Homo sapiens: one gene and its partner. The protein of the gene in region 2 interacts with the protein of the main gene of each other region in a biochemical or structural test. Each region holds a gene or a part of one and is shown on either strand. Other genes may lie near its edges.

Region 1 (3,500 bases), on a different chromosome or scaffold from region 2:
TCACTGCAACCTCTGCCTCCCAGGTTCAAGTGATTCTTGTGCCTCAGCCTCTTGAGTAGCTGGAATTACAGGCACTCGCCTCCATGCCTGGCTAATTTTTTGTATTTTTAGTAGAGAGGGGGTTTCACCATGTTGGCCAGGCTTGTCTCGAACTCCTGGCCTTAGGTGATCTACCCACCTCAATCTCCCAAAGTGCTGGAATTACAGGCATGAGCCACTGTGCCTGGCCCTTGAGTTAACTTTTTAAATATTTATGTAATTTAGGTAAAGCATTCTGCATGAATAAAAGCAAAACTTCCCAGATAAATGAATATTCATTATTTGTGTAGTATAATCCTGACTTGTTATTTTCATTTTGCCATATAAAATTAAGAAATGAGAAATAATAAAGATAATAGGTAACACTACTGCAGCAGTTACTAGCTGCAAGGTACTGCTTTAATTTTCCCCATGTATTATTTAATCATAAAACAGAATGATGTAGGTATCATTATACTTCCCATTTCACAGATGAAGAAACTGAGTCACAGAGGGGTAGAGTAACTTGGGCAATGGAATCATGACTGGAAACCCTGCAGGGGGACTCCAGGATCTCTTTCCCCTTAACATTTTTGCTCAGGGGAAGGTATAAACTCTACAATGAAGTCAGAAGAATGTATAGAAATTCTAATGAACATGGTGGTATGAGTGCCTATTAACTCTAAGTGCATACTCCCTTCACTGTTATTTCTTGCTGTCTCCATGCTCTAGTGGCCAGAGCCTGTGTAGGAATAACGGGCAGACCTGCGGAGCTCCTGACTTGATTTATCTTTCTTTCTTAGGAAAGTTCTGCCTTCCTTCTTTGCATCACATTGAAGGGGTGTGTGTGTGTTTATGTTACTGAATATGTGCCTATTTAGTCCATGCCTGAGACTAGATTATCCATTTGGGGGATAATTTTTGTTTGGTTTTTGTTTCTTGTATATGAGAATCTTTTTTTTTTTTCTTTCCAACTTTTACATTCGGGGATACGTGTGCAGGTTTGTTACATGGGTAAATTACATGTTGCAGGGCTTTGGCATACAGATTATTTTGTCACCCAGGTAATGAGATTAGTACCTGATAGGTAGTTTTTTGATCCTCAGGCTTCTCCTACTCTCCCCCCTCAAGTAGGCCTCGGTGTTTATTGTTCCCTTTAATGCGTTATTGGGGGCTAATCTGAAGGTTGGCCTCTACACACTCGTGCCTTTCACTTCTAGATAGCAGCTAGTTTTAGCCATGCTTTCAACCGTCTTTAGCAACTCATATTCAAATATACACACACTTTTCACAGTACTTCGAGTAAATAAGTTTCACATCTTAAGTGTGCCTATTTGTTACTAGTTCCACCATCTTAGAGAACAAACTGTTTCCACTGCTCTTTGCCTTCTCAAGTCCTTTGCCTTCCTTCCTTAGCACAGAGGGTGCATGACCACAGATATATCAGGCCAGGGACAACTAGGACAACTCATAGTGGCGATTCTGGGCTGCTTCTCTCCTTGCAAGTACTCTACCTCAGTCTCCAGAGGGCTAATGACACAGGAAATCTTTCTTCCTCCCATATTAAAGTAACACCAAAGTCAACAAGATCATTTGCTATGCATAATACAAAAATTCATACCTGACTCGAGGAGTGGGGTTTCCAGTGACTCTACACTCCAGATAAACTCGGCTCCCTTCTGCTACTTCTTGGCTCCTCAGCTTTTGGATGAATCGAGGTGCAGCTGGGAAGTGGAGGGCGCTGTGGGGCTGTGGGTGAGACTTGCGGTTGTGTGGCACTGCCAAGTCCTGGTTGTCCTGGTAGCAATGCCTGGCCCCAGGGGACTTGACCTCTCTTTCCATCTCCCCTTGGTCTTCCATAGGGCTCTGGCTGGCTGAGGCACTCAGCAGGGCTGACGGCTGATTTTTAGGAGACAGGTACCCACTGTCTGGTGACGAGGACTCCCCATTTGGGCTTCTGTTTCTTGGCTTTGCGGCTTTAAATATGGATGTTAGCTCCTCAATTAAATTAGCTGCCTTGTCACACAGCTGGCTCTGGGGGCCACCCTTTCTTTGATGTGGCGTTTTGGGCTTTACGTTTGTGCTGGGAGTTTTTGCACCACGCTTTTCAGCCTTTCGGAGGCTCCGGATGTAGCTGGGCCTGGTGAGCAGGGGTGACATGGCAGGTTTCCTCTTTGAAACAGGTGAAGAGATACTCTTAGTTTGTTTCTCTGCCAGAGGCTGGACAGGTGTTGACCTGTTATCCTGAGGTCTCCTCGAGGCGTGTTCACCCAATTTGGTCTCCTTATGGGAAGGATGTTCACAGAGGCTTGCAGGAGAAGTACTGAAAATCTGCGAGATCTCCTTTTCCGAGTCAAAATCTTCTGTTTCGGAGTCGGCTATGGCTCTCCGGGCCAGGTCAAGACTCTTGTTTATCTCTTCCTGGCTGAGGAAAGCAGAAAGGCCCGGGAAGAAGTCAGTATTCTTGCTTTCTTCCTGCATGTCTGAGAGGGAGTCATAGAAGGACTCATGGGAGGAGGTCCCTGACATATTTGAACGGTCTTCATGCACTCTGTGTCTGCTTTCAGTAGGAAGGCCAGAGGCACTGGAAACTGTTTTCTGAAACTGTGTTCTGAAAGACAGCATAGAATGTCATTAGTAGCAATGATTTTTTCCCCATTTTAATCATAAAACTTGTAAGTCACAAATTGGGAGAAACATTAAAGTGAATGAATATAAGTTTTCTTTATTTTACAAGTTGGAAGAAATATCAAGTATACTTGTGTTGATCATTTTATGATTTTAATACATGCCCTGTGAGTGCTATCAAATATCTCACTAGGCAGTATTAAATCATTCAAAAAGATGATGTGTGCAGTAGGCACTATTAGTAGGATAGGGCTCACAGTCAGCCCCCCGCCCACCTTACTCAAACTCTAATTGATTAATGTAATGAGATCAATAGAATATTGATATTTTTAGTAAATCTGACTCTGATTATCCAACCCTAAACCACAAAATGCATTTTAAGGATTCCAATTTTCATTTATTTATAGTTTTCAGTGAAATCTTTGAAACTTTATTGTCTCCAGTTATGTGCATTCATATTCATTCACTCAACAGTCCAACAGATGGTAATAATCACTTATTAAATTTCAGGTGCTGGAAGTACAGCTGTGCTGTATGCCAGGGATGGGCAAACTTTTCTGGAAAGGGCCAGATGGTAGATACTCTTGACTTTGTGAGCTGTTCAGCCTCTATTATAATTACTCAACTCTGCATGAGCATGAAACCAGCCAAAGATGATGGAAATGAATGAGCATGACTGTGTGCCAATAAAACTTTATGGACACTCATATTTGAATTTTATATCATTTTAATGTGTTAAAACTATTATTATTTTGATATTTAATTTTTAAACAATAGTTTTAAAATGAGAAAAACATTCTTAGTTTGCAGGGCATACAAAAAGGGTTGGGATGGATTTGGCTCAGGGGCTGAAA
Region 2 (2,286 bases):
TAACATTTTTTTTTCCACTTTGAAAGTCACAGATGCAATGATTTTCGACGGGCAGGGCTTCACTGCATGCAAGAACGGCAGGATATGCTCTCTTATAGAACGGATAGACATTTCTAGCATTTTGAATTATATAATTCACTTGCTGAAAATCAGTAGTATCAAAGAAAAGTGAGAGAACCCATCTAAATATTTACAATATAAGAGTCTTTCCTAAACTTCTTTAACAATGGCAAGGTTAGGATGGTGTCTGGACAGTGTTAACAAGCATTTTGATGACAAAGAAATAACATCACATGAAAAGTTTTCTAAAATAAATCTTAGAGCAATTTAAAGAGGGGTGATCTATTGCACATAGATGAAAAATAATCTTTAATTGTATCAGTAATATGTAAAACAGGTTTTACATGTTTTAGAATAGAAATCCTTCTTCTAATTTATTGGAAAAATCCAAAACCAGCTAAAATAACATTTTGGGTGACTTCATAAATTGTCTTCTGAGGAATTACAAATAAAAATATCCTTTGTAATCATTTCTTGCCACAAGGCTACCATTCTTACTTATATTAATCCCAAAGGAAAGGCTTTTCGTTACATATATAATAACTGTTAAAAGTCTACTTTCCCTTATTAAATGTTGTTGAGTCACTGACAGGTACTCAAAAGGACTTCTCAAGCTATATTATGAAGGCCATTCACTCAAGGTAAAATTTCAGTTACTCCTTTAAGAATTATTTTAAAATGCACACACTGTGAACGTATTGCGAATATGTAAGAAAGTCTACACTTTTTGAATAGTAAGAGGACACCTTACTGCCTGCCCGGCTAAATCTGTGATGATCCACCCAGAAACAGCAGAGCTCACCTGTCTGTCTGGAGCTGCTCATGGCTGCTGAATTGATACCTTCAACAGCTAACATTCAAACTCGACAGCAGCAGCCACACCTGAGACCAGCAGAAGCGCTGAACTCCCATACATACTAAGCCTCTAGCTAAGTCTCTCTGAAAATTTCAGCCTCATCTTGGAGATAGAGCGGTATTGAAGACAACGAGAAGGTTTGAGGTTTTGCTTAGAATACAGTACTGTGCATATTTTGATTTCGGATCTTATACTAACACATGGCGTTTGAAATAAGGCTGTAAAAAGATACAAACAAAACCAGCATTCAACTTGAACCAAGATTGTACATCTATGACAGTGATATAGATTTAAAAACCCTACTACCAAAACTGTAATTGATTTCATCATGCACTCTATAGAAAAAGACAATTATGGAAATTTCTCTTAGTTATGAATGTAACCAGCTCACTGGCACCCAATGGGTCTCTGTCTCTAATTTGTCAAAAGTTGTTTTGAGCTCATTGAATGCCACAGTGAGGTCATCATTTATTATAATTTTGTCAAAAAGATGACCATATTGACTTTCCATTATCTGTGCAGATTTAATCATTTCTTGAAAATCTTCTTCCTACAAAAGGAAGTATTAAAAAAATAATTGGTTAACCAGGCCATTACCTCACTTCATATCAATGCAAACATTCTACAATTGGTTTACCTAATGCTGTTCTGTGTTCAGTCTTTCCCCTCAGCCAGAAATAAAAGTCATCCTCTTTAACCACAAGTGCTTCAGAAGCCATAATTTCTAATACTATTTCTATGATTTGCTTGTAACAAAAAACTACTCTGGCAAGAGTCAAAACTCCTGCCTTAACTGAATTGCAGGATAATGAGTCACTAGTCATCATTATGGGGAAATGTCAGTATTAAAATAGCTATTGGAGAAAAGAATTGTTTACTCTGATGTTTTGGCTGCATTATTTATGCTTATTCATAGGAAGGAATTTATAATATAAACTCCTTTTTCAGAGTTGGACAAATTTGTAAAAGGATGATTACCATGTTTTTTGTTTTTTGTTTTGAGATAGAGTCTCACTCTGTCACCCAGGTTGGGGTGCAGTGGTGCAATCCTGGCTCACCGCAACCTCTGCCTCCGGGGTCCTAGCAATTCTCCTGCCTCAGCCTCCCGAGTAGCTGGAATTACAGGAGCGTGCCGCCACACCTGGCTAATTTTTGTATTTTTAGTACAGATGGATTTTCTCCATGTTCACCAGGCTGGTCTGGAACTCCTGACCTCAAGTGATCCCCACCTGCCTCGGCCTCCCAAAGTGCTGGGATTACAGGCATGAGCCACCACGCCCGGCTGATTACCACGTTCCTTCGATGTCTCATTAAAAGTGTTTCAGGAGCCTTCGTGTCTCACATTTTTAAAGCCAGGAAGTATTTTAGTT

The links.
Region 1: the proteins of MPP7 (region 2) and PALLD interact in a test that uses a peptide from one of them, tested with the Homo sapiens proteins (one large-scale study listed by IntAct).

The regions. Positions count from the first base shown.
Region 1 is NC_000004.12:168,510,552-168,514,051, reverse strand, and holds part of PALLD (palladin), read right to left. Parts: intron 2,630-3,500; coding exon of another isoform or gene 2,548-2,629; coding exon 1,640-2,547; intron 1-1,639. UniProt on the Homo sapiens protein: Cytoskeletal protein required for organization of normal actin cytoskeleton. Roles in establishing cell morphology, motility, cell adhesion and cell-extracellular matrix interactions in a variety of cell types.
Region 2 is NC_000010.11:28,052,779-28,055,064, forward strand, and holds part of MPP7 (MAGUK p55 subfamily member 7), read right to left. Parts: intron 1,467-2,286; coding exon 1,287-1,466; 3' UTR 1-1,286. UniProt on the Homo sapiens protein: Acts as an important adapter that promotes epithelial cell polarity and tight junction formation via its interaction with DLG1. Involved in the assembly of protein complexes at sites of cell-cell contact.